Linked DNA regions of Homo sapiens. The protein of the gene in region 4 purifies or fractionates together with the protein of the main gene of each other region. This does not show direct contact. Each region holds a gene or a part of one and is shown on either strand. Other genes may lie near its edges. The genes, in order: SLC12A7, ATG9A, SLC12A2 and LGALS9.

What was found.
Region 1: the proteins of LGALS9 (region 4) and SLC12A7 purify together in Homo sapiens (affinity purification with mass spectrometry; 4 studies listed by BioGRID and IntAct, with this or other methods). This does not show direct contact.
Region 2: the proteins of LGALS9 (region 4) and ATG9A purify together in Homo sapiens (affinity purification with mass spectrometry; 4 studies listed by BioGRID and IntAct, with this or other methods). This does not show direct contact.
Region 3: the proteins of LGALS9 (region 4) and SLC12A2 purify together in Homo sapiens (affinity purification with mass spectrometry; 4 studies listed by BioGRID and IntAct, with this or other methods). This does not show direct contact.

The regions. Positions count from the first base shown.
Region 1 is NC_000005.10:1,109,052-1,116,694, reverse strand, and holds the start of SLC12A7 (solute carrier family 12 member 7), read left to right. Parts: upstream 1-4,631; 5' UTR 4,632-4,703; coding exon 4,704-4,827; intron 4,828-6,093; exon of another isoform or gene 6,094-6,175; intron 6,176-7,643. UniProt on the Homo sapiens protein: Mediates electroneutral potassium-chloride cotransport when activated by cell swelling. May mediate K(+) uptake into Deiters' cells in the cochlea and contribute to K(+) recycling in the inner ear.
Region 2 is NC_000002.12:219,226,618-219,234,406, reverse strand, and holds the start of ATG9A (autophagy-related protein 9A), read left to right. Parts: upstream 1-4,770; 5' UTR 4,771-4,872; intron 4,873-5,921; 5' UTR 5,922-5,973; intron 5,974-6,353; 5' UTR 6,354-6,382; coding exon 6,383-6,485; intron 6,486-6,593; coding exon 6,594-6,637; intron 6,638-7,473; coding exon 7,474-7,538; intron 7,539-7,789. Other genes in the region: tRNA endonuclease ANKZF1, read right to left, coding at 119-274, 464-692, 974-1,121, 1,216-1,328, 1,724-1,917, 2,045-2,147, 2,367-2,479, 4,002-4,149. UniProt on the Homo sapiens protein: Phospholipid scramblase involved in autophagy by mediating autophagosomal membrane expansion. Cycles between the preautophagosomal structure/phagophore assembly site (PAS) and the cytoplasmic vesicle pool and supplies membrane for the growing autophagosome.
Region 3 is NC_000005.10:128,079,549-128,086,776, reverse strand, and holds the start of SLC12A2 (solute carrier family 12 member 2), read right to left. Parts: upstream 3,012-7,228; 5' UTR 2,823-3,011; coding exon 2,067-2,822; intron 1-2,066. UniProt on the Homo sapiens protein: Cation-chloride cotransporter which mediates the electroneutral transport of chloride, potassium and/or sodium ions across the membrane. Plays a vital role in the regulation of ionic balance and cell volume.
Region 4 is NC_000017.11:27,634,173-27,641,191, reverse strand, and holds part of LGALS9 (galectin-9), read right to left. Parts: intron 2,930-7,019; coding exon 2,838-2,929; intron 621-2,837; coding exon 419-620; intron 1-418. UniProt on the Homo sapiens protein: Binds galactosides. Has high affinity for the Forssman pentasaccharide. Ligand for HAVCR2/TIM3. Binding to HAVCR2 induces T-helper type 1 lymphocyte (Th1) death.

The DNA.
Region 1 (7,643 bases), on a different chromosome or scaffold from region 4:
TGAGTTACACTTTGAGAGAAGGAAAGCCACACACGTGGTCTAAAAATCCTGGAGCCTCCTGAGTGAGGGGAAGAGTGTGTCGGACTCATCCACGGAATCTTCCAGAGGGAACTTGAGCGAAGACTCAGTGTCCGTGAATTACAGGACTGAGAGCTTTGTCGCTCAAGCTTGACCTTCTGTTGGCGTCACTTACAGTCTCAGACACAGATGGTCTGAGACGAGCTCTGTGGGAGGGGAGGCCCCTTCTATTCCCAGATTCAGCTCCATGGGATGTACCCCTGCCCAGCAGGCACAGGACCCGGGGGAGGCTCAGAACCCCACGTACCTGGCCACTGTGCAGACAGGCTCCCCAGCGCCAGGCCAGGCCCACCATCCACCAGGCCCAGAGGCCCCGCCCTGGGCAAGCCAGGGATCGGGGCGGGGGGCAGCTTGCGGTGCCTGCCTGGGAAGAGCCTGGCATTGTTTGCAGAACCCTTGGGACAGGGCTGCTTCTTCAGGGGAGATGCAGCCATGGGCCTGGGGCTGTGGCTGGGGTCTTCTGTCATCCCTGCCTACCACAGCTCCCTTCGAGCCCCCACAGGTGGTGGCGGATGTGGGGCTTTAGGGCCACCCTGGCCATGGGCAGAATTCTCGGCCCTGGTGGGACTCCTGGGCAGGGAGAGTGTGGGTCCCACAGGTGGCCGGAGACTCTGCTTCCTCCACTGATGTCCACATACCCCACCCTGCCAGGAGAGGCTCACCACGCTTAAAAAAAAAAAGGTTTGTTTTTTAAAAATCACTTTAGCCTTGGGTAACTGGGGCCTCCCTTCCCTCTCCTCCCTTCCCACCTCTTTCCTTTCCCTCCCCCTTCCCCCGATTCTCCTTCCTCCCCTCTCTCTTCTGCTCTGCCCTATTCGCTCTCTCCCCCACTCACCATGGGTGCTGGGCCAACAGGCAAGAACCTGGGTGGGTGCCCGGCCCTGCCAGGCAGAAGGCGGGTGGCTTTCTGGTGAGAAGGAGTGTGGGGCCTCCAGGGCCGGCCTCCTCCAGGTGTCCCCTTCCCTGGACACGGAGCTCTCCACGGACACTCTGCCTGCCAGCCCCACCTGCATCCTTCAGCCCTGGAGGTGCGCCCTGCCTGATACCCGACAGCAGGTTCCCAGCCCAGAAGGATGCAGATGGCGCACCAGGAGATGAGCCCCCCACCCTAACAGGAAAGCAGAAGTGGACTGGGGGGACCCGCGGACCTGGGGAGAAGCTCCGTGGGCAGAGGCACACAGATACCTGGAGGCAGCCTGCGTCTGGTGAGAGCCCTCCCAGGCCACAGCCCTGATTCCAAGCCGTGGGCACGAGCGGCCTCCTGGCTTGGAAGCTGGCATTGGGTGTCCGTCCTAATCCATTAGAAACTCCACCCCAGGGTGGCAGGCAGCAGGGACTGTTTCGAGAATCTACACACAGAATGTAACCACCATCGGCTACACTTTCGCACTAAATCCCAGGGTTCCCCTGGCTGTGCCCTGCACACGGCCAAGAGGCCATCGCAGATGACCAGGCTCACATCATAAGGATGCGAGATTGCATTTGAAGAGGCCCCCTGGGCAAAGCTGGACACCGATGCTTGGAAAGGGCACTAATGGTGATCGACTGAGACCCACCAATGTGTTTCATCAGCGATGTACAAATATACTTGGGAGATTGTCGGGAACCAATTCACCGTTGTGGAAACTGACAAATGAGGGAGAGGCACCCTTGCCCTGCCTTTCCTGTGGGCACCATTATCCAGATGGCCAGACGGACAAGATGAGCCTCTCCCTCCAGTGAATTCATGACGAAGCCACCACGCACTGGAAAATCACCATTTTGCTCCATGAATCTGTCGATTCAGACATCAAGCACCAACGACTGCGGACGGAGGAGCTACCACCAGACAGTGCGTGGCTCCCTCTGCGAGCCCCCGGCCTTGCCAGGGGACTGGACCCGGATCCCAGCAGTCCCCTGGCTCCAGGTGCCCACTTCCAGGAGACGCAGAGGCCTGCACCGAAAGATGCAGCTCCAACCCAGGCCTCGGGTACCTCCACGTGTCCGAGGGCCACTTCCTACAACAGGTGCCGGGTACAGAAAAGGACAGAGGGATGGAGGTGGGTAGGAAGAGAGCACTGAAAGTCACACAACGCACATTTAACCCCAGGCTGCCGTGTGGGAGGATATACGTGGACACGGAAACCCACAGAGCGAAGGGAGGGGCCACCAGACCCCTAGGGATGGGCTACTGATGGGATGGGAGGGGCCTGCAGCGGCTTCTGGGCTCCGGCAAGGGTCTCTGTCTTGACCCGCAGGTGCTTACAGGGTGCTGATCCCTGTCGTGACTCACCTGATTAGAATGCAAAAGGCAGCAGACCTCACCCCCCACCCGAGGTCTCCCACAAGTAAGATCTAAGATTTAAACAAGAGAAGCCACCTGCCTTCTGCCTGGCAGGGCTGGGCACCCACCCAGGTGCTTCAGCCATGGCCCCTGGTCCTAGTCAAGATTTTGTAATCACAGAGAAGACCACCCTCGGAGCTGCCACAGGACCCTAAACTCCTGGGCCTCAGTTTCCTCCTCTGTAAAATGAAGCTGATGAGTCCTGAGTCCGGGAGCTGGCCCTGGCCACAGACCCTCCAAACCAGCTCCTCTGAAGGTCCACAGCCAGCACATGGCGGGCAGCCGGCCCTGGGGTCCTGGGGTGTGAAGCAGAGCTTGGATGTGCGACGGGAGCCCTGCACATCTGTTGCTCCTGCTGGCATCACTTGGGAAGGCCTCGTGCCCACCCTGAGCTCTGTCCAACCCTCGGGAATAGCGCTGGGTGGCAACCAGGGTTGAATGTACAGAAGCCCCTGCTGGGGTGACTGAGGAGAGGGTTTACCCAGCACCCTAAGTGTGAACCCTATAATTGACCCCATTGGGCACTTCTGTTCCCACCCCCTGGATCTTTTTAGCAAAGCCAGCCCTCCTCATAAGGATGCCTGGGAACTATTTTATCTTCTGGGGAGGTGATGGTTTCCTACCTTCCAACCCACTGACCCAGGGAGGCAGCTGACCTAGCACCATCCACAGCCCTGAGCTCCCTTTGGTGGGAGGTGGGGTGAGAGTGTGGAGCAGGCACAGCTCCAGACACCCAGGCCAGAGGAACCCCCACCTCTGCAAGGGCTGGTGCTGGATGGGCGACGTTCCAGGAGGGTCCCAGGCCTACAGCTTCTGCCCAGAAGAGTCCATGGGGCAAAGGGGTAGAACCCTAGGCCACCCCAGGGCATGACTGGCTTTACTGGAAATGGCTGGAGAGGTTGGGCTTGCGTTCCTTGAACCCACAGAGCCCGGTGATCCCACAGCCCGGAGGCCATCACTCCCCTCCAGCTGCCTTTTAGGATTAGACAGGCAAGCGGCTAAAACATGGCCAGGCCATACCCATTTTCCACGTGACAAGAGGCTGTGGCCGTGTTTGCCCACACCACCTGTGTTTCTGCTTTGTTGTCGTACAGCAGTTGTGGGTGATTAGGAATAAAGGCTGACTCATTGCACCTGTGTGCCATAGCATTTTAGCCCAATTCCCCATTGACGGACATCTGATTGTTCCGTTTTTCATGAGTCATTTGTTGAGAAATGTGCCAGGTGCTGGCCGGTGGTATCCTGGTGTCTGCCTGGTGGGTTCTGGAACTCCACCTTCCCTGCATCACCCTGTGAGCTTCTGGAACATTTCCCAAGGAGGGAAGGGAGGGTTCTAGGGCAGGGGCCGCGGGGCACTCCTGGGGCAGGTGTGGAGGAGACTGGGGTCTTCGTGGGTGGTATTTGTCATGGGTGGGGGGGGGGACTCCCTCTACTGGGTTAGGTCCCTAAACTGGAGCTGGACCAAGCTCCGGAGTACCCCACCCCCAGGCTATCCAAGGCTCCTTCCACTGGAGTTGCCTTTGCAGCCAGGTTGGGCTAGCCAGGAGCCAGGCTAGGAGCCCAGGGTCTGAGCGGGTGTTGACAGCCTGGAGTGGGTGGGCGGACTGTGTGGGAGGTGGGTGCTGGAGGATGGCAGGGGGGAACAGGAGGGGGAAGAAGGAGGGGTAGGGGGCTGGAGCAGGAAATGGGGGGCAAACAGGAGGGGGTGCGGGAGGGGGCGCAGAAGGAGGAGGGGCCCAGCAGGAGGGGGTGCAGAAAGGGCAGGGGTTCCAGCAGGAGGGGGTTCATAGGGGCAGGGGGGCCCAGCAGGAGGGGGTGCAGGAAGGGTGGGGGGGTGCAGGAGGGGTGAGGGGTTCCAGCAGAAGGGCGTGCAGGAGGGGCAGGGGGCTGGAGCAGGAGTGGGGGGTCGGGGAAGGGGACAAGAGGGGAGGCGGGGAGGGGGCCGGGGAGGGCGGGGAGGGCGGGGAGTTCCAGCAGGAGGGGCAGGGGGCTGGAGCAGGAGGGGGTGCAGGAGACTGAGCGGGGATTCGCGGGCTCTGCGATGGTCGGGAGCGCAGGCAGCGAAAGCCCCGCGTCCCGGGTCGCGGCGGTCAGACAGACGCAGCCTGGGTTGGGGTCCCTGCAGGAAGTCGCCGCGGGCCAACTTTTCGTGGGGCCGCGGGGCAAGCAGGTGAAGTCACGTGGCCCGGGCGGGGCGGGGCGGCTCGGTCGGACCCCGCCCCTGCCTCCAAGTCCCGTGGCGTCGGCGGGAGCGGCGCAGCGCGGGCCGGGCCGGGACGGGGACTGTCGGCTGCAGGCGGCCATGCCCACCAACTTCACCGTGGTGCCCGTGGAGGCTCACGCCGACGGCGGCGGGGACGAGACTGCCGAGCGGACGGAGGCTCCGGGCACCCCCGAGGGCCCCGAGCCCGAGCGCCCCAGCCCGGGTGAGCGCGGCCGCACCTGGCCGGACAAAGGCCGAGCGCCCCGAGCGCGGGTCTGGGCCCGGCATCCGGGAGCGGAGGCGGGCGGCGGGGCCGGGGGTACAGGAGGCGCCCCTTCCCGCGCCCCCACCGCCTGTTCTCGGTCCCCCACGAGGGCCCCCACCCCACGTTAGTGGCAGCGCTAGGGGGCGAGGGGCCCTGCCAGGGCTCCCGGTACGGTCAGCTCGGGTGGGACCGGGGGCAGAGGTGTGGACGCCGCTGCTGGTAGCCATGGAAACGGGGAGGGGCTGGAGCGCGCCTCCGGAGGGAGCCCGGGCCCCTGGGTGGTCCCTAGTGGGACAGGGGTGGCGGTGGAGACCCGGGCGGTTCGGGAGCCGGGGCGTCCTGCGTCCCCCGCGCTCTCCCTTCCCCTGCGCCGCGGCCGTCCGGTAACACTAGCCCGGGCCGGCCCGTCCTGCCCCCGCCTGACCCTGGAGGAGCCGCCCACCCCCCAGAGGCGGAACAGGAAGGACTGCGCCCTGGCTGGGGAGGGGGCAGCCACCGGGGCCTTGCTCAGGCCGCGTCCTCCGTGTTCCCGTCCCCCGTTCCGGGAATCTGGAGGTTTCTAGCACTTTCACTTTCTCTAGGGGGTGGGGACGGGGCTGGGGAGAGAATCCCCCAGCCCTGTTCCCTCCATCCTGGCTCCAAATCCCAGTTACTCCCCGGATCTCAGCCCCCTCTAGAAACCGGAGGCTCTTAGGCCCTTCCATCCGGAGTCTCTGAGAAGGTGTCCGGACTCAGTCCAGCCCCCACCCCGCGTGCTGGCAGTGCCCGCATGTGCCCGGGTCTCATGCAGTGGGTGGCAGCCTCCCTGCTCCCTGGCAGTGGAAGGAAGGTGAGGTCTGTCCAGGGACAAGTCCGGTGCCAGACCCCAGATCCTTCCTAACCCACCATCCCGGGCAGGAAAGGCCAGACATCCCCTCCAGGCAGTTTAGGAACCCGGAGACACGGGTGGGGACCCACCGTGAAGGCAGTGGCCTGGTGGCCTGGGGTGCGTCATCAGGGTCCCCGTGGCGGGCGAAGAGTGGTCTCAGCTTCCTCTGCACAGAGGCCAGCCCAGATCTTGGAAGTGGTCAGGCGGGGCGCCAGGCTCAACACCAGGTGAAGTGCTAACTAAGCAGGGTCCGTGAGTCCAAGCCCCTTCTCTCCAGTCACCACCGTGGAGGCAGGAAGCACCAAGGAGTGTGGGCCCTGGCGTGGTCTTTCTGTGTGAGCTTTGTAGCAACGCCCCCGGAACGCACTCAGAAGGAGCCTCTTCTTGTCTGGCCGGCCCCTTCTCAAGGCTGATCAGGTTCACTTTTGTCTTTAGACTGTAAGTGTCATTTGCTTTTAAGCCAGAGAGAATTTTGTGCTTGTTCGTTTTCTTGTCTCTTCTACTCTCAAGGCTGTTGAGCAGTGCCCTGGGCCTGTGTCTGCCCAGCAGGAAGTGGCCCTGGCTGAGCGCTGCCCATGTCGCTGCCCGCGCACTCAGGTCCTGCTACGGGCGTGTCAGGAGGCTCCCTGGCCTTCATGAAATTGAGAACGGGAGGGCATGGGCCAGGTGTGGGCTTCTGGACACTTTTGAGGGTGGCCCTGTGGTGTGAGCTGAACTTGGGAGATTTCTCCGAACTGGCAGAGAACTTGCACCTGGCGCTTTTGTGCTGGACCCGCTTCCTACTTCCACAGAAAGGGCCCGGTGCCCAGCCACTGCCAGGCTGTAACGGGCACGCAGCTGCCCTTCGGAATCCACTTGATCACATCCTGATCTTCAGCCCACAGAGGTGCGGCGAGGAGTCCCGTGATGGGCACGGAGCCTGGGGAAGGAGGCACAGGCTTTGCTTTTTGGTGGTGGTTGGGGGCGGGGGTCCTGCAGAAGCCGGAGCCCCTCCCAAAGGCCTTCTGTGTGGGGTCCACACCACAAGGTCACAGGCCAGGTCCAAAACTGTCCGGCCACAGAGTTACCAGCACCCAAGCTCTTCCTGACTCCATTGCCGTTCCCCTGAACGGTCTGTGGAGGTACTGGAGCTTCTGGGCTGGCGCCTGGGTGACGGCGAAGCAAGTTTGGGGGGCCTGGTGGGCTGATCCTAGGCACTGCCAGGTGGGCGTGGAGAGGGCGTCCTGAGCCACCCCAACTTGAGGAGCAGGGGCCTTGGTGTCCCCAGCCTGGGTTGGGGGGTTCTGGGGAAAGAGGGGTAGATGCTGCTGCCCGGGCTGCCTGGCTCGACCCAGAGCCCAGCAAGGCCGCGTCTGCCCAGCCTGGCTCCAGGGGCCTTCTGTCCCCGACCCCTGCAGCTTCCCTGCTGCTTCTGGTGGAGCCTCTGCGGGAGGCGTCCTGTCCCGGGGATGGGCACTGTGCCCTCAGCACTTCTTGGGACGGAGCTTTTATTCTTATGTGAAATACCTCGTCTTGAAATGAGAAGGACGTGTTAACCCTCAGTTTCTCAGTGGGGTGGTTTTTTGAGAGTAGGAGGTGGGAGGACACTGCTGGGGGCCGGCTGCGTCTCGTCCGACTTCAGGGTAGAGTGGGTTTTGTAACTGACTTGGGGGAGCCCACCCTTCCTCCGTGACCACATCAGGGTAGACTCACTCCTTCCCAGGTTGTAGGGGTGCGTCCAGAGGCCTCGGAGACCCTGGGAGGGGTGGGAAAGGAGGGCTGGCCAGTGCCCCGGCCTGTCTGGAAGGTGCAGCGTGCAGAGCCTCTGTCAAGGTCCCACAGGCCCTGGCCACCCACTGTCTAGGAGGGACTTCCACTCGTCTGGGGCTCCCTGGGCTGGGAGAGGGTGGGTCCTGCCTTGTACCCC
Region 2 (7,789 bases), on a different chromosome or scaffold from region 4:
TAGACACTGTGGGTGTGTGTTTAAATAAGGAAATGGGTCAGTTATGAGAGTAGGGAATTTGCCAGTGCATTTTTAGGACAGAAACTCAGATCTGACAGTTGCCAGATAGTAATCAAACCCTGTTTGGGAGATTCCTCATTCTGCCCCAGCGCTTCCTTTTCATCCCTGCAGATCTTTCTTATTTCTTCCTCAGTAGGCTTCTTTCTCTCCTCTCTTACTGTTTTCCAGTGTGTCTGAGGTGAGTGCAGTCTGACTGCTTCCCGAGGGTCTTCTTCTGCCATAAAAGAAAAGATCTTTCTCAACCTTAGCTGAGGAGAAGCTAGCGCAGGTTTCTCTCAATGCAGATGTAGCTGGGCTGCAGTCCAAGGCTTAGAAAATCCTCTGGATATACCAATGAGAATGGAGGCTTAGGTTGGAGAGAACAGGAAGGTCTAGGGAATTGGGATCTGGAGCAAAGGCTCACCATAGACATGCAAAGTGGTCAGCTTATGGAGCACACGCTGTAGCTCTTGGAAGGTGGGTCTGCGGGTGGCGAGGGGGATATCCCAAAGTCGGGGATCCCCCCTTTGCAGGGGTGCTCCCTTGCCTCCAAAGAACAAAGACCGGCCAGAGCGGGGAGCACGCAACAGTATTGTACCAGCCTCCTCCAGCGCCTTAGCCCAGCTTGGCCCTGCCAGCAGGTCACGAACATCCTAGAGAAGAGAGTAACTCAGTCCTGCATACCTTCACTTGCTATTTATAAATCTCCAACTAAAAAAAATGGCCCACAGAAGTGCAAGGGGTGGAAAGTAGAGGATAACACGGAGAAAGAATAGAGGACTAAGGCTCCTGGGGAATCCCTCATCTACCTTTGTCTACCTATAATGAAAATTGGAAGGATATGAGTCAAAAACCTCCCTACTTAACAGTGAGTTGAACAGAGATGCAAAAAAAGTATGGATCAGTACCACCAGATCTAAAAGGCTTAACTCACCTTATATAGTGTGGCTTCATTGTAGCGCCTCAGGTTGGCTCCAGCAGAGTGTGATGGCCCACCTCGGGCATCCCGAAGCCCCTGGGCTGTGCCCCGCTTGGCCCGAACCGTATAGCGGTGAAAAGTTTTGTGTGTCACCACTTCTCTTCTGTAGACAGCACAGACTCAGTACTGGAGACCAGCTGGTGCTCCCTGGCTAACAGGATCCACTCCATCCTTACCCCCATGCAGCACCCTCTCACCCTTGAAATATAGCACCAGCAAAGTGCCCAGCTGCAGCCATGAGCACCACGCAGTCTCTGGGACCTCTACTTTGCAGGTTCTGTAGCAGCAGTTCTGCCTCTTCTGGGGGATCCTTGATGACAGAGAAGCATCAGAAACATATCTGTTGCATTCACTGAGAGCAAGAAACTAAGGGCCAATTTTCACAAACATTATCTCATTTAATATTACCACCCTGAGGCTTGTTTCCATTTGACAAACAAGGAAATTTGAGGCTTGGCGAGGCAGTCAAGATGAAGTGGTAGAATCACAATTCAAACCTAAATTGGTTTGTTTCCAAACTTAATTCCATTACACTTAACCCTTCCACAATTCAGGCCAGTTTCAATTCAAGACTATGTTGTCAAGCGTGATACCCACAACCAACAGGAAGGAAGAGAAGCAGGGAGAAATGCACTAGGCTAAGGGAAATCTAGGCTGGGTGTACAAAAGGCTGGGGTTAGCCATGCAACCTGTACTGTCACTTGCCTGATGAGGGCCTAGGACACAGCGGTAGGCATAAAGAAACTGGCCCTGGGCATTCTGGAAAAGAACTCGATGAGGGTAAAAGCCTGGGGGTCGGCTCAACTTCTCAAATGTAGCCCTCTCCCGATCCAGTGTCTGCAAGTCCTCCTCACTGGCTGAGTCTGAGTCTTCTGATCCCGAGATGCTGGAAAGATCTCCTGAAGACAGACAATATGAGATACACAAGTTTGGTACCCCATTTTTGTTCTTTCCTCAAACTCTAAACTAGTGCTTTCTTATACCTCCATGTCCTACTCCTACATAGGTCCCCCTACCACTCATCACCTGTGGAGCTCTGCTTTTCAAAGTCCAGGGCAGACAGGAGAGGCTTGTCCTTGAGACGTTGCTTTAGGTTAAACCGATGCCAGTCAAGCTTATAATGTTCCCTCTAGTACAAAGACAAAGAGTGAGATAAAGGTGGAAATATGCCCCAGCCTGGCCTTGTACTGGCCAAGACCAGTTATAGTATTCTAGGAAGTACAACCAGGTAACACCAACTGCCTCAGTCAAAGCATGGACCTTTATTAAGACAAATCAAATGTCTACCTCTCCCCACCCACCATTACACTTTTGCTTCTAACATCTAGCTCTGCACCTGACCTATTACCTGTTCTTGGTGGTTCTGGAAGGTCTGGTCACAAGTTGAACAAAATAACTTCTCTGAAATATCCATAGGACCCTGGAGTAGCTTTCTTTCTGGGCTTTCTCTCTCCCCTGAGCCTAAATAAGGGAAGAGGAATTGGACATAGAAAGGGAGCCCAAATCCACAGTGACAAGAATTATATTCAGAGTGTGATATACAAAGCAGAGGAGGATACAAAAGAGATGGCATGATACTGCCTTCAAGGAATTTACACTCTAATAGTCATGAAATAAACAGTACAGCAATCACTTAATGCAATAAACATGCTTCTGAAAACATGTACGTAAAATGAATGTAAATAAAATAAAATTGGCCAGGTGCAGCGGCTCACGCTTGTAATCCCAGCACTTTGGGAGGCCAAGGCAGACGGATCATGAAGTCAGGAGATCAAGACCATCCTGGCTAACACGGTGAAACCCCGTCTCTACTAAAAATACAAAAAATTAACCGGGTGTGGTGGCGGATGCCTGTAGTCCCAGCTACTTGGGAGGCTGAGGCAGGAGAACGGCATGAACCGGGGAGGCGGAGCTTGCAGTGAGCCGAGATCACACCACTGCACTCCAGCCTGGGCAACAGAACGAGACTCTGTCTCAAAAAAGATGAAGAAAAATAAAATAAATAAAACGAATGTAAATAAAAACTGGCCCTGGGCATTCTGGAAAAGAATCCGATGAGGGTAAAAGCCTTGGGGTCGGTTAAACTTCTCCAACGTAGCCCTCTCCCGAGATCCAGCGTCTGCAAGTCCTCCCCACTGGCTGAGTTTGAGTCTTGTCTAATTTAAATTAGCCAAACAGATTGTTTAGGTGAATCCTAAAGAAAATAATTTCTGTTCAGTTTAAAATTATTTTTCACTGCACAAAAACTACTTCCCAAATGCTTTTTAAAGTTTACATTTCCAATTAGTGTACAGTTTGTCTAAGGAGAGGTGCAAGAAAAGATGTAGCCAAACTAAAGTTACACAAAACAGGACCGACACGGTGGCTCATGCCTGTAATCTCAGCACTTTGGGAGGCTGACCCAGGCGGATCACTTGAGGCCAGGAGTTTGAGACCAGCCTGGCCAACATGGTGAAACCCCGTCTCTACTAAAAATACAATAATTAGCCGGGCATGGTGGTGCGGGCCTGTAGTCCCAGCTACTCGGGAGGCTGAGGCAGGAGAATCACTTGAACCCGGGAGACGGAGATTGCAGTGGGTGGAGATCGTGCCACTGCACTTTAGCCTGGGCGACAGAGCGAGACTCTCAAAAAATAAAGCTATACGAAACAAATAATAAATTGTTTCATATTCAGCAAAAAGGAATAATTTGAGTGGGGCCTGGTTAAATGTGGAATACATCTGAGAATTTTATCTCTACAAAGTTTAAAGTGTTTTTGAAGGGAATGGTGTTAACGTGAGGAGATACATGCAATGGCAAAAAGACTTGTTTGAAAACAAGGGCTGTGCTGGACATTACCCAGAGATTAAGTGAATTTAATCAAGCAGAAAGATAAATCAATTGGCCTCCTAAGCTCGGGAATACCAATAAGAATGTGTTCCCTGAACGGGCAATACGCTGTAAGGAGCCCTGTCACGTTTCACACGAAACCTTCCAGGATACCTGAACAGGAAGTACGCGGAGCCCGGGCCAGAGCCTCCCCAGGCGCGTGGCTCACCAGGCTCAGGCCCTGAAAGACCGGAGCATCCGCGCTGAGGTCAAACAGGGAGATCGACGCAGGAGCCGGGGCTGCATCTGGAGCCGGCGACATGGCTGAGCAGAAATTATTTAGCAGCAGCTCCTGGAGTAGAAAGCGTGTAAGAAACAGGGCTCCTGCAAACGAGATCCTACTGCTGCGTCTCCTGCCTGCCTGACTTGGTTTCTCCTGCACCGCAAGACTTCTCGTCTCTCATCCTGCTACCAACTGTGAGATGAATACCTTGGCCCCCGTCCACTTTCTCAAACCCCCAGTCTCAGCCCACAAAAGAATGAAATAGGCATTCGGCTCCCAAATCGAGTCCAACAGAGTTAAAAATCACTGAGCTTGCCTAGCCGAACTTTCTTCGTTACCCATGCGACCAGCAACAACTGGCCCGCGTAAACTCGCCCACGCCCTTAGAAGACGCACCAAACGTCCCGGGAGCTGAGCGGCTCGCAAGTCCTCAGGTCGATTGCCGGATTTCTGCAACACAACAATCCCCGTCACTACGGAGCAGCGAAGAGGACAACCGGCGGCGTCCGCACCTGAGCCCCGCCCCACGTAGAGCACACTATTGGGCCGCTGACTGTCCAAGACCCGCCTCGAGACTTTAGTCCCGTCCCTGAAGCCGAGAATTGGCCGTTGTGTCTCCGCCCCCCGTGCTTATTGGCCAGCCTGGCTGCGGGTGACAGTGAGTGGCAGACACCCGGCCTAGCGCCGCGGGTCGCGCCGAGCCGAGCCGAGCCGAGCGGAGCCGGCGGAGCCTCTGGAATCACCCGGGTCGCTGTTCCTGAGGTAAGACGTGAGACCGGTTATTGGAATCCCAGGCCCCGTGTCTGGCCTTGCCCAGGGGTGCCTGCGGAGCCCTAAGTGAGCTCGCGGCGGGTAACGGAGGAAGGGGCGCCGCCGGCGGGGCGGGGGCGCGCAGCCGGAATGTTTTGATTGCTGGCGCGCGCAGACGGGGGCGCGCGCGGGCGCCGGGGCCGCGCGCGAGGTTGTCCGCTGTTGGGAGCTGCCAGCCCTTGGCCTGGGGCCGGGCGACCCTGGGGCGAGGTGGACTCCGGTCCACGGTCGCCGCGGCTGGGTGTGGGGAGGCAAGCCAACCCACCCGGGCTATCAGCTGTAAGGCTGACTCGATCCCTGCAACATCCGCAGGAACCCCTGAGCCCAGGCCCAGCCGGCCGGGGCTCCACGGGCCCTGGTCCACACTGACCCTGTGAGTGGTGACTTCCCTGAGGGGCAGGGCTCTCACTAGCCCAGGGAATCCCACCGGGGCCAGGCTGGGCCAAGATCCACGGCCCCCAGGGGCTGCACGGACAGGTGAGTACCACCTCGACCATGCCTGGCTTACAGGACCTAGGGAACCCACAAATTCACCTAGGATCGGGGGTCTACACTGACCCAGTCAAGGTTTCCCATCCAGAAGGTTTGCTCACCGGCTGGATCTTTGGTGCTAGGGAAGTAAGAGAAGGGGTTGACCAGAAAGGTCCTCTTCAGGAAAGACTCTTGAGGTTTTGTGGACCCTGAGAAGTATGTCATTTCTGAGGCTAAGGTAGGGCAATGGAGAAATAGTCCAGAGGCGCCCCTGGCCTCAGGTCTGTACCCACTCATTCTCCATGGGGTCCCTAAGTTACTTCTTGAGACCCTGGAGTTGGAAGAGTGGCCCGGTTTAGCACAGCCAGAGGAAGTGCTCGTAGTCCTGGGCTGGAAGGGTGCTTCTTCCCCACTGCAGCCTTCCTGCCCCATGCTTGGCCTCCTCTTGGTGGGGTGTGGATGGCTGGGAGGGTTGGGTTCCTTTTTATCCCCACTGCCCACTCTCTGGGGCCTGACATCTTCTCCTCCAGCAGCTGCAGAGCATCGAGGGCTGGAGAGGAGCACATACTGTCCATGGAGCTGGTAGGGCCATGTGCTTTTCTCAAACATTTGTTTGTGAAGTGCTTCCAAACTGTTAGTCTCTTGGGAGACCAGGGTTCCCAGGATGGGCGGGGGAGGGACTCTTCTGTCCGTTAAATAGAAGATGAAACAGCCCCCAACAAAGGGACAGATTCTGGCTTTGGGCCAGGAAAGCAGCAGTAGACACCCAGACTGGCCAGAGTTAAGGCTCCCCCAGCCCTGAGCTTACTGCCTTTCTTGTGTCACTACTCCTCTGCCTCTGAGCCAAGGAGGCTGGTAGTGGACAAAGCCCAAGGGTACTTTCTCCTTTTGGCAGTAGGCAGGGCAGCCCATGGGCAGCAGCTGGAACTGAATCAGGGTCTCTTCTTCCTCCTTATTGGCAGGTGGTCAAGGTGGACAGGGGGCGGTGGTGATGGCGCAGTTTGACACTGAATACCAGCGCCTAGAGGCCTCCTATAGTGATTCACCCCCAGGGGAGGAGGACCTGTTGGTGCACGTCGCCGAGGGGAGCAAGTGTGAGTTCTTGGATATGACAGCCATAGGGAGAGTTGATGGAAGAACATGGAGAGAGCAAGGGGCTTGTGTTCTCCCAGGGCTCTGACATCTCTGTTCCTATCCCACAGCACCTTGGCACCATATTGAAAACCTTGACCTCTTCTTCTCTCGAATATCCTTTGTGTTTCTGAGTTGGAGCTCTGGGACCTTTAATGTCTCTCTAAGCCGGGGCTCTGGTGGGAGGTGGGGGTAGGTTTGACTCTAATACCTGGAAACGGGAATGGAGCTCATCCTGAGGCTGAAAGAGGCTGGTGAAATCATCGTTAAGTAATGATAGCCCACATTTACCAAGATCTGTGTGCCTGTGTCCACTTTGTGGTGTTAATTTGTAGAAGCCTTTCTAAGGGTGAGCCTCCTTTTTTTTTTGTTTGAGATGGAGTCTGTCTCTGTTGCTGCTAGAGTCCAGGGGCGATCTCAACACACTGCAACCTCCACCTCCTGGGTTCAAGAGATTCTCCTGCCTCAGTCTCCCACGTAGCTGGGATTACAGGCACCTGCCACGATGCCCAGCTATTTTTTGTATTTTTCATAGAGACAGGGTTTCACCATGTGGCAAGGCTGGTCTCGAACTCCTGACCTCAAGTGATCCACCTGCCTTGCCCTCCCAAAGTGTTAGGATTACAGGCGTGAGCCACCACACCCAGCCGAGCCTCCTTTTTGATGGGATGTAAATAATCGTAATAAGTAACGTCTTTTGACTCATTCTGTGTCAGCTCTGTGTTAAATGCTTTACATGCATTATCTTAGACCTAATACTCCTATGAGACAAGTGTTATTTATTCCTAATGTACCACCATGGACAGACAAAAGTTTAGACAGGTTAAGTAACTTGGTAAAGTCACACAGCTAGAAAGTCACAGAGCCAGGACTTAAGCTTGAGTGTGTTGACACCAAAGTCTGTGCTCTTACCTGCTTTCTTTACTGACTACTTTTTCTTAACAATTACACGTTTATAATCTGCACCAGAAGAATGGCTTCACATGTATGCTCATCGGGGAGATCTTTGAGCTCATGTAAGTATAAGAAGGGACAGATGATGTGGTGAAAGAATACATCTTAGTCTTTCCTCTCCTTGCACTCACACTTGGCCCAACCTGCCAGTACAACTCAGTCCTAGGCTAAAACTCCGTAAACCTTTGTAGTTCAGGGACTGGGTGTGGCACCAAAACTTACAGCTTCACCTTTCTTTTTTTTTGAGATGGAGTGAGTCTCACTCTGTCGCCCAGGCAGGAGTGCAGTGGTCTTGGCTCGGTGCAACCTCTGC
Region 3 (7,228 bases), on a different chromosome or scaffold from region 4:
TGTATAGTCATATTTGTACTACTTAACACCCATTTCTTTAATCCATCTGCTAAAATTCTAAGCAAAATTATCTTCAACATGTAGTTATTAGTTAAGCCAATAAAACAGTGGCCATAAAGATTATGAGTGGCAGAAGGTAAACTACAAAGAATTAAAGTACCTGTTGCATAAATGAAACTGAACATAATATTTATATACTACATTCACCTAATAACGTAAGAATTAACAGAATCTAAAATTGAGATCCTAGAGTCTTCTGAAGGGCCAATATAAGAGGGAAATAACAACTAGGTATTATTTTCCAGGCACTGAACATGGTCATTTTTATTGCGCTTTTTTTCTAATCTTCATGATAACCCTGAAAAGCTGAAGCTAAGAGGTTGGGTGATTTCTTCAACTACCATACAACTAACAGTACAGGTGTTGTTTTTTAGATACTTTGAACCAAAAAGCCAAGCAAAAAACACAAACACACAAATCTAAAGTTTTGGAGAACTTGAAGTGCTTTGTTATTGAGATAATTTAATTTAAAGTAGCAAAAACTTCCCTAGGAAGCATATAAGCTCAACATATATACCTTTCAATTGGATGTCTTTCTAAAACTTATGGGTAAATACAGATCACTTTACTGCTCACATACTTGGCTTTGGTAAAATAAATCTAAAATATATCTGTATAATATTTTCATTAGTAAAACTGTCCTAAGATAATGAAAATTGCCAGCTCCATATCTACTTTTGTCTACAATGATTTTTGAGTTTTGAAAAGAAAAAAGAATAGACTTGATAGAAACTACAGGAGTATGAATAAAAAATGTTTTAGACATTGTTTTGCTTCTGATTATGACAAAATACCACAATGGAATAACAAGAATAGTATTATCTAAAGCTAAATGATCTCAGGCTTTTAAACAATCAATAAGCTGTAAGAGCTCTGTAATTACCTCTGTGTGAATGTTACATTATCAAACACTGGGACAAGTACAATCTTGTATGAAATCACTGTATGAGATCAAATAATCATATCCAAAAGAAATCACATACTGGATTTAAACTTGTCCAAACTGTGATCATTTCAACCTATGTGGTACCATCCTCTTGCGTTCACAAATTCCATCAATGTAGTCATTACACACTTGTAAAGGAAGACTTCAAGTAATCCCGGCTCATAAAAAAGTTAAACATTAACGAAATCTCAAAAGCATCAATGTTATCTCAAAACAGTGACATTGAACGCTGAAGAAATAAGTCTTATGTGACCATAAAAAATAGTTACAAAAATCAATGAGTTTATGGGGATGGTTTTCTGTTTACAAAGTGTAACTGCTTATGGCAAAGACCCCACAGGTCTTTCTGGTCATCCTCTACAGAAAAACCAATTCTCCTGTTTCCCTTTTTTCTTTAAAGACTCGCCTCTGTCCCTTTTTTTTTAAATATACACCTCTCCCAAAACGTTTTCATCGCAAAAAAAAAGAGTTATGCCATTATTAGGAACAGCGTGTCCCAAGACAAGATCTCTATGATCCTTTGTATATTCAAGATTGCAAGAATTGAGCTTTAATAACTCATAGACCATAAACACACCCTGTTAAGGTTTTCCTTCAAACAGCAACATTCCCACTCTTGCGATCCCTAATAGGCGTACATAAGCCACACAACACAATCTTTCAAAACGACACAGATGGTAGGTGCTCTCCAACCTCTCTCGAGAGATCCTCACTGCACATTCTCCTCTAAAGGGCCCACAAACACTACTGTCATTCAGAGGGATGGTGACTGTTGAGCGTGGGTGGGAAAGAAAGTGCACACGAGATACCTAACTGGATGGGGAAGGTTGTTAGAGGCAGCCCTCCGGTATCACGTAACTAGCCAAACCCGCTACAAACTTTTGAGAGATTAAGTTAACATTCCTCGGCAATTCCACCCTTGACAGCTGAATCCAGAGATGCCAGCAAGTCGTGCACGTCTACTACTCCCGCCACCTCAACTCGGGAAGAGTCTGCAGCCACATCCCGCGGTCGGCATGCACCAGGGGCTGGGGAAGAAGGGAGGGCTGGGCGAGCTCACCTTTTCCAGCTCGTCGTGGAGCTCCGCCAGGCTAGGCCGGAGCAGCTTCTCGCCCAGCTGCGCGGCTGTGTGCCGGTAGTGATCGATCCTGGGCACAGCGTCCATGGTGTTGTGGCCGAAGGTGCGCAGGTAGTAGGTGTTGGTGTGGGTATCATAATAGTAGTGCTGGTGGTGCCCACTGCCGCCGCCGCCGCCGGAGTGCAGGCTGCTGCCCTCGCTCAGCACCGTGTCCCCGCCGTTCTGGAAGCTCACGTTGGGCCCGTCGACTCCGACCCCGGCAGCATCTGACAGGCTGTCTTCAGCCGACGAGGAGGCAGCTGGGTCCACGAAGTTCACGCGGAAGCGGCCCTTGGCTTCCTCGCTGCCTTTAGCCGGCTCGCTCTCGCCGCTGGCTTCCCCGTCCGCGGGGGTCTGCTTGGCCCCCGCCCCAGCACCAGCCGCCGCCGCTGCCGCCGCCGCCGCCGCCGCCGCAGCAGCGGCCCGCCCGGCGTTCTCGGAAACCAGGTCCACCTGGAAACGGCTCTGGCTCGGGGTGGGCCCCAAGGGTCTGCCCAGCCCGTCCCCGGCCGCCGCGGGGCCCTCATCGCGGACCCCGCCGCCGTCCCGGCTCGCGGGCGCAGCATCCTCCGGCACCGAGGGCACAGCCGTGCCGGGCAGTTCCACCCTGGCTGCGGCCAGCGCAGCGGCTGACGGCGTCTCCCCGACCCCGGCCAGTCCCGGGGCGCCGGAGGAGGGCGCCGTGGGCCGCGGCTCCATAGCTGCCCGACCCCCGGCGGAACTGCAGAGCCCGGCGGACGTCTCCGGCAGCACGCCCTCCACACCCCTGGCCGGCGGTGGCCACAGCCGCAAGACCAGGTGAGAGAGTCTTTCTCCCCGCCGCCTGCGGGCCGCCGCTAGCCTGGACGGCCACAGAGGCCACCGGCAGCCGAGCGAGCGCGCGAGTGTGGCGGGCGCGGGGCGGGCCCCGCTGTTTAAAGCCTCGGCGGGGCTGCGGCGGCGGCGGCTCCGGCAGCAGCACGCGGGAGGCGGGGCCGGAGGCTCCTCCGCCCCTCAGCCCGCCCACCCGCGGTCCCGCAGCGGCGCGCGGCTGACGCTCCCTCAGCGATCCGGCCCTCCGCGGCTCCTGCGCGACCCCACGCAAAAGCGCCCCGTGCGAAGAGCGCGGCCAGCCAGTCCGCAAAGGGCCTCGGGCAGTGCGGGCAGCACGAACGGCGCGATCGGGGAGCAGGCGCGGCTACGCTCCGCCTCAGTGATGTCGCCGGGAGGATCTCCGCGCGGCTACCTCCTCTTCCGCCGCCTTCCTCCCACGCCTTCACCTCCCTCCCCCGCCGCGCTCTGCGGCGAAAAGGAGCGGGCTCCCAGGCCACCTCCCCTCTCTCCACCCAGGGGCCGCGCGTCAGTGGACCTGCAGCCCAGGCAACGGGGCTGCGGACGGCGCGCGTGCCCTGCCTCGCCTCACGCCGGTAGCTGATGCTCCCGCGGCAGCTGCCACCCCAGCGCCCCAGCCACGGCTTCAGAGGCTCTCGCACGCTGGCTTTTTTTTTTTCCCCCCGCTTTGGTGAACTCGCAGTACTTGGGCTGAGCCCGAAATCTCGCGAGATGCTGCAGGCGTCAGTGCGGCTTCCCACTAGGCGCGTGGTACCCGAGGCCGGGCCGGAGCCGCAGGCCAGCCGCGATTCCTTCGGGCGATGCTGGGGGCTTTCCGGTCGGGGCCGCAGCCGCTTCCGGAGCCGCGGGCGAGGTGCGTTCCCCAGCCTGGTTTGCTCTGGGCTCTGACCCGCCGCCGCGAATCTCCGCTCGTAACTCCGGGCCTGAACCTGGAGGAGGGAGGATTTCCTCTGTGCAGCTTTCGAGCGGTAGACTCACCCTGCCAGGCAGACCTAGATTGGCATAACCAGAGATCAGTTCCAGTTGTGATGCAGTGGGTGTCTACACACTTCTGATGACACCTTTATTTTAAAAGCTGATGTTCCAAGGTGAGAAGGGAGCTTCTTTGAGACGTCATGTTGTTTCAAGACGAGTTTTAATTTAAGGCATTTCCAAAAGTGATATGCAGCTCATCTCTCAGAATACAATGCCGGCAATAACTACCCGTGGAGTCCTTACCAGGAGGTTTCTGCGTGATTTGGGTTGTGCAGAATTCCTCTGCTTATATAGAAACAGAAAGGTACTCCTCTGCAGGTCTAGTTTCTCTTCGGTAAAATGTAAGGGAATATAACTGTGTTCCCACTTTCTTAGCAGCAGAAATTTTTAAACCTATAGATTATGCCCAAAGTCCTAAGTAAAATCAATGAATGGCGTCCTCCAATTACTTGGTTTTTATTTATGTACTTTTTTTTTTTTTTTTTGAGACGGAGTCTCGCTCTGTCGCCCAAGCTGTAGTGCAGGGGTGCGATCTTGGCTCACTGCAAACTCCGCCTCCTGGGTTCACGCCATTCTCCTCCTGCCTCAGCCTCCTGAGTAGTTGGGACTACAGGCGCCCGCCATCACGCCCTGCTAATTTTTTGTATTTTTAGTAGAGTCGGGGTTTCACCGTGTTAGCCAGGATGGTCTCGATCTCCTGACCTCGTGATCCGCCCACCTCCGCCTCTCCAAGTGCTGGGATTACAGGCATGAGCCACCGCGCCCGGCCCTTGTATTTTTAAACTTTGACTTTATGGAGACGAACACCATCGTTTGCTGAACACTTGAAACATGATGAAAGAGCCACAGAGTTGGCAGAACTGTTTGAAAATGCTGTAAGTAAAAGCTGCAACCAGGCAATTTTCAAAAAATTGTCATAAACATGATCTTACTTGAACTTGACAACTTTTCAGGCTATTTTATTATCTCTATTTTTAAAGACGGTGAGAGGGGAAAACAGCTGTTGCATCAGGATTTTTAAAGCTCCTTTTGAGCTTTAGTAATAACCAGAGGAGGCCAGAAAAATGAGGTGGTCCTTTAAGCAGTGCAGTTTTCTACTAGGGAATTGCTGCATTAGTAGTTGATCCGTGCAGTACCTTTCAGCTCCACAACGAATTCTGCCACTATTGGAATTCAACATTCATTTAGTTGAATAAATACTGAACAGGTACTATGAGCTACTCTGTATTTACGGGATATAGCAGTGAGCAAAACGGACAATCCCATCTCTCATGGAGTTCTTTCTAGTGAGAAAGAGAAACAATAGACAAGATAAATAGGTAAAATACATAGCATCCAAGCAGTGAGTACTAAGGAAAGGGAAATGGGATATTTGTGTGAAATGAGGATCATAAAATTTTCCATAGGATGGCCTCACTGAGAAGGTGATATTTGAGTAAGGAAGTGAGTGATATGAGTTCTTGGGAAAAAAAGTGTCTGAAGCAGAGGGAAACCAAAGACCCAAAGGCAGGAGCATGCTTAGCATGCTCACGGAATTGCATGTAAGCCAGTTTGGCTGGAACTTGCTTAAGAGATGTGAAGAATCAAAGGCAATTACATCAGAGAGCTTAGGATATGGGATGTAGTAGATCAGAATGTTTAGGACCTTTTTTGGCTGTTAGACATACTTGACTTTTTTAGTAGAATAGTGTGTTAGTCAGCTCAGGCTGCCATAACAAAATACATAGATTGGGTGGCTCAAACAGTAGAAATATATTTTCTCACAGTTCTGCCTGCTGGAAGTCTGAGATCAGAATGCCAGCATGATCATGTTCGGGTTTTCTTTTTGGCTTGCAGACAGTACCTTCTCAATGTCTCCTCAGATGATAAAGAGAGCGTTGTCTCTTTTCTTATAAGGGCACCAGTTCTGTGGAATCAGGGCTTTACCCTGATCACCTCATTTAACCTTAATTATCTCCTTAAAAGGACTGTCTCCAATACAGTCACATAGGAGTGAGGAGAGGATTCGGGCTTCAACATATTAATTTAGCAGGGTACACAACAGTCCTTGGCAGATGGCAGGTTATTGGAAGGTTTCAGTGGAGGAATGACATCTGCCATTTTTAAAGGATTCATCTAGCTGTCTTGTAGGTAGGCAAGGGATAAATGGTTGGGTCAAAGAAGCAAGGAGATGTGTTAAGAGGTATTACAGCAATCCAGGAAGTGATGATAGCGCTTTGACCACAGTGGGTATCAGTGGAAATGGGGAAAAGTAGTTGAATTCTGGGGAAACAATAGAATTTGCTGATGGATGTGAAGTGTGAGAGTCCAAGGGTTTTGACCTCAGCAACTGGAAGAATAGTATTGCTATTTTCTGAGATGGCAAAGGAGGTTAAAGGAACAGGTTTGGGTTGGATGAATATCAGGAGCTTAGTCTGAGATGTCTGTTGGAAGAAACACACAAATGTGTATTAATAATAAATAGTAGTCACTCATATAAATTTGTAACTGCAAACAGAAGTTCTAGGGGATAGGAACGTAGTATAAGGAAAATGCAAAATAGGCCAGACTTAGTCAAGACAGAAGTGACTTTTTAGCAAAGGTCTAAAGGAAAATTAGGACCAAATTGTCACTAGAGGGTTTCCAACAAGGGAAATATTGTGGACAAATGCCCTCATGGAGTGAGCAGGGACTATCAAAGAAGCAAGAAGCTTGAAATCAGTTTGGTTAAAGCATAGGGAAGGATTGGGGGCAAAAGTAGTAAGAGATGTGTCTGTATTCTAAAAGCCCTATAAAAGCATTAATGGGTTTCTGGATAGATTGAGGGGCACATAATCAGATTTGTGCTTATTAAAACTCTCTAGGCCTGGCAAGGTGGCTCACACCTGTAATCCCAGCACTTGGGAGGCCAAGGCGGGTATATGGCTTGAGCTCAGGAATTCGAGACCAGCCTGGACAACAATAATGAAACCCCATCTCTACCAAAAAAACCCACAAAAATTCAAAAATTAGTGGGGCGTGGTGGCACGCACCTGTATTCCCAGCTCCCTGGGAGGCTGAGGTGGGAGGATCACTTGAGGTGGGGGTTGTAGTGAGCTATGATTGTGCCACAGCACCCAGCCTGGGCGACAGAGTGAGACACTGTCTCAAAAAATAAATAAATAAAAATAAAACTAGTTATATTATGAGCAGAAGAGTGGAGAAGAGGAAGAATAAGCATGGAAAGTCAGGACACAATTTCACTAATCTAGCTGTGAGTTGATAGTAGTAATAGTAGTTAGCCTTTATAGAGAATTTAGGTCCTGGATACTGTGCCAAAA
Region 4 (7,019 bases):
TGCAAGGGTAATTTGCAATGTGCTTACAAAACTATACCCTTAATAGACCCTGGATAAAGGCTGGAACGATGTCGCTGAAAAATAAATGTTACCAGTGACCTGGAGAGGAGGAATGGCTATAGCAGAGGAATGGAATGAGCTTGGAATTCAAAGACACACAACACCAAATAGCAACGTGATGACTCCTCTAGTTCTTATTTTCAGAGTAAAAGAAGCAGCAGGTGCACCTGTAGATTCAGATGAAGGTGCATAAGGAGACTAGGCAGCCATGGGTAACACCTCACAAGGAAATGAGCGTGTTATCTGTATAGTGGTGTCACTCTGGCTGAATGTCAATTTAGGTGATTACTTAAAGGCCATTCACCTGATAGGGCTGGGGGTCCCAGGGGTGAGAGGTGGGGAGGGGATTCTTGCTCACCTTGAAATCTGAGCTCTGCACCAGGAAGCAGAGGTCAAAGGGCATCCCCTTCTGGAAAGGCATGTGTGTCTTCCTCTCCTCGGGCCCCCAGCTTCCGTTCTGCCTCGTGTTGCACACCACGTACCCTCCATCTTCAAACCGAGGGTTGAAGTGGAAGGCAATGTCATTTCCACTGAAGCCAGTCTGAAAGTTCACAGCAAACCTAGGCCCAGGGAAAGCAAATAGTCTTCTGTGGCATGGATTATTGCCAGTGACAGGCACAGGAGGGCCTCGGCGCCTGTGCTTTGCATTTGTCTGGATCTTGCACACAACCTGTATGGCAGAGACTGCTTTGTTGGCATCGTTTTTGTTTTTCTAATTGGGATCTAATGTGTTTTTGTTTTAATTATTGGATTTTGCCTTTACAGCATGATTTGCTAAAAGCAAATAGAAAACGGTTAAGGAAAAGTGCTGGTATTAGCAAACAAGAAACATAGGTCTTGGAAAGTGATTACCAATTGATACCGAAGATGGAAGTTGTTAAGCACACCTAGAAGAGAGAGCCTTCTGTGCCAGTGGACACTTGTTGGAGGCCAGCACATGCCTGATTAAATGGGAAAGAAGAGAACAAATGTAAAGAGCATGTGAAATTGGGGCTGGGCGCAGAGGCCAAGGCGGGTGGACCACTTGAGCCCAGGAGTTTGAGACCAGCCTGGGCAACATAGTGAGAGCTCATCTCTAGTTAAAAAAAAAAAAATTGGCTGGGCATGATGGCTCACGCCTGTAATCCCAGCACTTTGGGAGGCTGAGGCATGTGGATCACGAGGTCTGGAGTTCGAGACCATCCTGGCCAACATGGTAAAACCCCGTCTCGACTAAAAATACAAAAAATGAGCCAGGCATGGTGGCATGAGCCTGTAGTCCCAGCTACTCAGGAGGCTGAGGCAGGAGAATCACTTGAACCCAGGAGGCGGAGGTTGTAGTGAGCCCAGATAGCGCCACAGCACTCCAGCCTGGTGGCAGAGCGAGACTCCATCTCAAAATAATAATAATAATAATTAGCTGGGCATCATAGTGCACTCCTGTAGTCCCAGCTGCTCCGGAGGCTGAGATGGGAGGATCACTCAAGCCCAGGAATTTGAGGCTGCAGTGAGCTATGATCATACCACTGAACTCCAGGCTGGGTGAAAGAAAGTCCCTGTCTCAAAAGAAAAAAATTAATTAATTAAATGAATAAATGGAGAAGATTGCATTTGAAATATATCTGCATGTATTTTTTCCTTTGGAGTCCTTCAGCTTCATCCCTGTAGTCCTTTCGAAATTCCTGCCCCAAGGAAGGGAGAGACAGAAAGCTCCCAAGAGGAGAGGGCCCTCTGAGGTAGGATCTGTCTCTATATGACAGGATGGGAGTGGGAAGCCCTCCTGGTGCTGGGGGGTGGGGGAGGTGGAGGGAGAGGGAGAGAGGAAGGGGCGGAAGATCAGGGTCATGGTCCTGATTCCCCTGGTTGGAGGGTTCAGGGAGATCGGGGCCTCCCTGCCCTTGGCATCTCCTGAGGGCACCGCAGTCTCTCAGAGAAGTCCCACAGCAGGATGGCAATGGCGGAGGAGGTCACCAAGAATCTAGGTGTCCAAGCTGAGGTTTAGCTGGGATCTGTGAGGCCCAGAAGGTCTTAAGGAGAGGTCCCCTGGGACTGAGGCAGAGAGGCTTCCGAGAGAGAGTCATGAGTCCAGAGGCTCTTCTGTGGGCCCCGCAGAGTTCAGCAGGCAGCCACCCATGGTCCCCCACTAAACCAGGAGAGAGCTGCACACCTCTGTGCCACCCGGTCGGGGTGCCTCGGCAGGGGTCAGCCAGGCCTGAGTGAGGGTCTAGAGCCCTCCCAGCCACTGAGAAGCCATGTGAGCTCTTCTCTGTTCCCAGACAGCCCACCTTGGGAGGGAGGAGGGGGTGGGAAACAGCCCTGATACAATGTTAGTATGTTGAATTGACTTAGTAGTTTCTAGAAAAGGCCTTGAAACCAAAAGAGACCAAATTACTTTTGATGGCAATTTTCAATATTTTCACATCAGCAGAAGGAGAGCTTCAGAGTGGATGAGAGCAGTTACGGGAAATGGAGGAAGTTTGATTTTTGCAACTCTTAGTCACAGTGTGCAAGGTTCAACCCAGAACATAATCATCCAACTCTGACCATCCCACGCCCTCCTTAGACCGTCAGCTCCCAGGGCCCCATTCATCCTGGAGTCCAGGTTAATGGCACCCCTGGGTGCAGGTTGTGCCTGTGGAGTGCTGCCCTGTGGCATGGGTTAGGGACGCATTGGGCCTCCCCTGAGCCAGGCACGTGAGCTTGGATGTTGCTGTTTGAACTAACCCAGGCTCACAGGCACAGTGGTTTACTAAGGGACGAGGCTGGAGTGAAACGTTTCCATCCATATACACACACACCTGGTTCCACTGGAGCTGAGAACGGTCCCATTGACAGTGATCTGAAGTCCGTCCTGGAGACCTCCTTGAATAGTCCCAGAAAAGGGGACAGCCTGCAGGGAGAAGGTGTGGGAACATCAGTCAGGTGGCCGGCCTCCCGTTTGCTCCCCTCCAGCGCTAGTCAGTGGCCAGCCTGGGTTTGACAGCCCCATGCAAGGGGATAGGGTGCGGCTGTGACCAGTACAGAGGGAGTCGCAGCCCCACGGGTCTTAGGGTCCTGTGTGGAGGCAAACACAAATCCAATTAGTTACTCAGACAGTCTAAGCTTGTGATAAGGAGAAGCCTGGCCCTGAGAGGACGCGACAGGGAGCTGAGCTTGTGTGAGAGTCTAAGAGGCAGTGGAGGCTGCAGCAGGAATGCACCAGGCAGAAGGCCTTCCTTCCAGGCAGGGAAGTAGCAGGCAGACACCCTGGGCTGCTAAGGAATTAGGTAGCAATGGGGGCTGCTGGACCCCATGCTAAGCTCCCAGCAAAGGTCCCAGGCCCTGGCTGGAGACTCAGGAAGCCCAAGGGACCAAAGGGACCCATCAAGGGTCTGGAGGGTAAACCTTCGACTCACCCGAGGAGGTTAAGAAGAAGCCATCCCCCTCTCCCCACCACCACCATATAACAATGGCCACTGTGACCTTTGCCCTCCTGGCCACCTTCAGCAGAGCGTCTTCCCAGATGCCTTCTGTAGCCGTGGGGCAGCCCCCTCCTCTATTTCTGTGCCCGGGCTCCCCATTCCTTCCCTCAGGCCCTCAGCAGCCCCGAGGCCTAGCGTGGTTTCCCCACCCATCCCAGGCCCCACGGGCAACCACTTTGTCAAATTCTCTCTTCTGGTGCTCTTTAAAGGAGTGATGGGCCATGGTGAGGCATGCATCGTTTTAGAGTCAGGCCAACTCCAGGTCTGAATCCTAGCTCTGCTGCTCATGACCTGAGTGACCTTGGGAAGCCTATTTCACCTCTCTGTGCCTCAGTTTCCTCATCTGTAAAATAGGAAGGTGTTTCACCTGCTGCATATGATTGATGATTTTGTGAGAAACAGCCTGTGGTAAAAGAGACTGGCACATAGGAGATGCTTCACCACTGTCACCCACCCCCCACCTTCATCTCTCTCAGCAAAATTCACAAACTGGTACTTCCAATTTTCAAAGTTTATTCCCAAAATGCTTCATATCCAATGTCGTTCTATAACCCGCATTAAAGCACAGTTCTATCTCCTGGCTGATTTTCACATTCTTCAAGTTTTTAATGTCTTCTCTAATATCTCCTTTAGGTCAATTTCCTACACAAATTAAATGCCTAAAGGAGCCAGGCAGGTGATGTGTATGGGTGAGATGGCCAGGTGGGGGAGTGGTGGGGACTGTGGCAAAGTAGATGTCACACCCCTCATCTGAAAAGTCAACATCTACTCCGTGCTAAGCAGTGATTGCCATCTGGGCCCAGTATTGGCAGAGCTTCCAAATTTTTAAGAGAAGACAGAAGTCCGGATTTTTTTTTTCTATAAAACTTTCTAATTTCTTGGGGGAAAATTTGTCAAAAAGGATTATGTAAAAGCTCCTGGCTGGGCACAGTGGCTCACATCTATAATCCCAGCACTTTGGGAGGCTGAGGCAGAAGGATCACTTGAGCCCAGGAGTTTGAGGCCAGCCTGAACAACGTAATGGGACCCCCATCTCTACAAAAAATAAAAAAAAAATAGCTAGGTGTGGTGGTGCACACCTTTAACTCTAGTTACTTGGGAGGCTGAGGTGGGAGGATCCCTTGAGCCTGGGAGGTGGAGGCTGCAGTGAGCCATGATCACACCACTGTACTCCAGCCTGGGCAACAAAGTGAAATCCTGTCTTGAAACCCCCCAAATTCCCATATTATAGAGATACAAAATGAAATATTTGAAATGGAATGGTATCTTTGGATTTGCTTCCACATATCTGAGGGTGGGAAGGAAGCAAGCGAGGGAGGGTATAGGATGAAGCAAGATAGGCCTGAGTTGATCATTGTTGGAGCAGAGTGATGGGTGTGTGTTGTTGATGGTACAATTCCTTCTGCATGTTTGAATTTCCTATAATAAAACGTTAAAAGAAACACTGTGCAGGCCAAACAGAAAACACCCACCAGCCAAATTCAGCCTACTTGCCACTGCTTTCTGGTCTGTATTGTTGAGTTGTGTGACCACACAGAACCCTGGGAAACCCATCCTAGCTCAGTGTACACACCTGGCACCGTGAGAGCCCCAGGAAATCTGGGATCTGATTCAGTTAGACTCTGCTCCCCATGGATTTGAGGGGGGTGTCTTTTGTTGCCCCTCAGGTCAGGTCTGAACTCTGCCATTAAGTACTTTAGTGACCTCAAGCAAATCACAGCTTCTCTGTGTCTCTGACTTCTCATTCTTGTCCCTGTCTACACCAGCAGTGTAGGGGAAGGAGAGTCAGCCTGATCCAATTATGGACCAGCACGGCCTAGGATTGGGAAGCCTGTTTTCCCTGAAACATGTCTGTGGAACATTTTTCTCCTTGCCTGTTTGTGGAAGCCTGTGATTCTCTCCAGAGCCTTTCATACTATCATGAGACACAACACTGAAAATACACACCCTCCTGGGAAGCATGCGGCCTCCACTTAAGTGTATTCACAGCACAGCATCTAGAATTGAAGGCAGAGCGTGATGGACATGGGCTGGCAAGTACACACAAGGCTTAATTAAGGAAGCCAGGAGGGAGAAAGAGGAAGTACAGATCATGGGGGCGGGACAGGACAGGCTAATCTCCAAGGCAACAAGTTCCCCAAAAAAGCTCTGTGAGGTTTCAAAATATCTTAAATAGTGCCCCCAAAATTCGGAAAAACAAGATTATTTATTTATTTATTTATTTATTTATTTATTTATTTATTTATTTAGAGATGGGTTCTCACTCTGTTGCCCAGGCTGGAGTTCAGTGAGGGCTGTGATCATGGTTCACTGCAGCCTCCACCCCCTGGCTCAAGTAATCCTCCCGCCTCAACCTCCCGAATAGCTGGGACAAAATAGGTGCAGGCCACCATGTCCCACTAATCTTACAATATTTTTTGTAAAGATGGGGTCTCTATGTGTTGCCTGGGCTAGCTCAAGTGATCCTTCCGGCTCGGCCTCCCAAAGGGCCAAGATTTCAGGCATGAACCATCATGCCTGGCCTGAAAAATGAGTTTTTAAATTGAATATCATCCTACAAACAAGGTTATTCATTGCAGCATTATAACACAAAGGATTATAAAGCAAAGCATTGGAAAGAGCTTAAAAGTCCTCTGACAGGAAAAAGGTGAAATAAATTAGGGTATTTCCATTTAATAGGTTCTGTGTAGCCTTAAAAAGAAAAGAAAAAGAGGAAGACAGAACTCTGAGCACTGATATGGAATGATGCCATTTGTATAAAAAGTGGGTGGGGGAAGTCTATGGACTTGCATTTATTTATTTATAGATAAAATATATCTGGAAGGATTTATAAGAAACTTATAACACTGGTTACCAGTGGGCCACCCCCCAGAAACATCCACATTCGAATCCCCGGAAACTGTGAATATGTTGTAGAAGGGACTTTGTAGATGTGATTAAATTAGTAATTTTGGCATGGGGAGATTGTCCTGATTTTAAAGGTGGTCCCAATGTGATCACAAGGATCCTATAAAAGGAAGGCAGGAGGATCAGTGTCAGAGGTAGGAGATGTGACAACAGAAGCACAGAAGCAAGAAGAAGCTGGTTTGCGTTTTTGGGGGGTTTTTGTTTGTTTTCGTTTTTTGTTTTTTGTTTTTTTTGAGACAGGATCTCATTCTGTCAGCCAGGCTGGAGTGTGTTGACGCGATCTCAGCTCACTGTAGCCTCCACTTCCTCAGGCTCACGTGACCCTCCCACCTCCGCCTCCCAGGTAGCTAGGACTACAGGCATGCACCACCACACCTGGCTAATGTTTGTCTATTTTTTGTAGAGACGTGGTCTCACTTTGTGGCCCAGGCTGGTCTCAAACTCCTGGATTAAGGAGATCCTCCTGCCTCGGCTTCTCAAAGTGCTGGGATTATAGGCATGAGCCACTGGGCCCAGCCAAAGCTGCTGGTTTTAAAGATGGCAGGAGGGGTCATAAGCCAAGGCCTGCAGGCAGCCTCTAGAAGATGGAAAAGGAAAAGAAACAGATTTTCC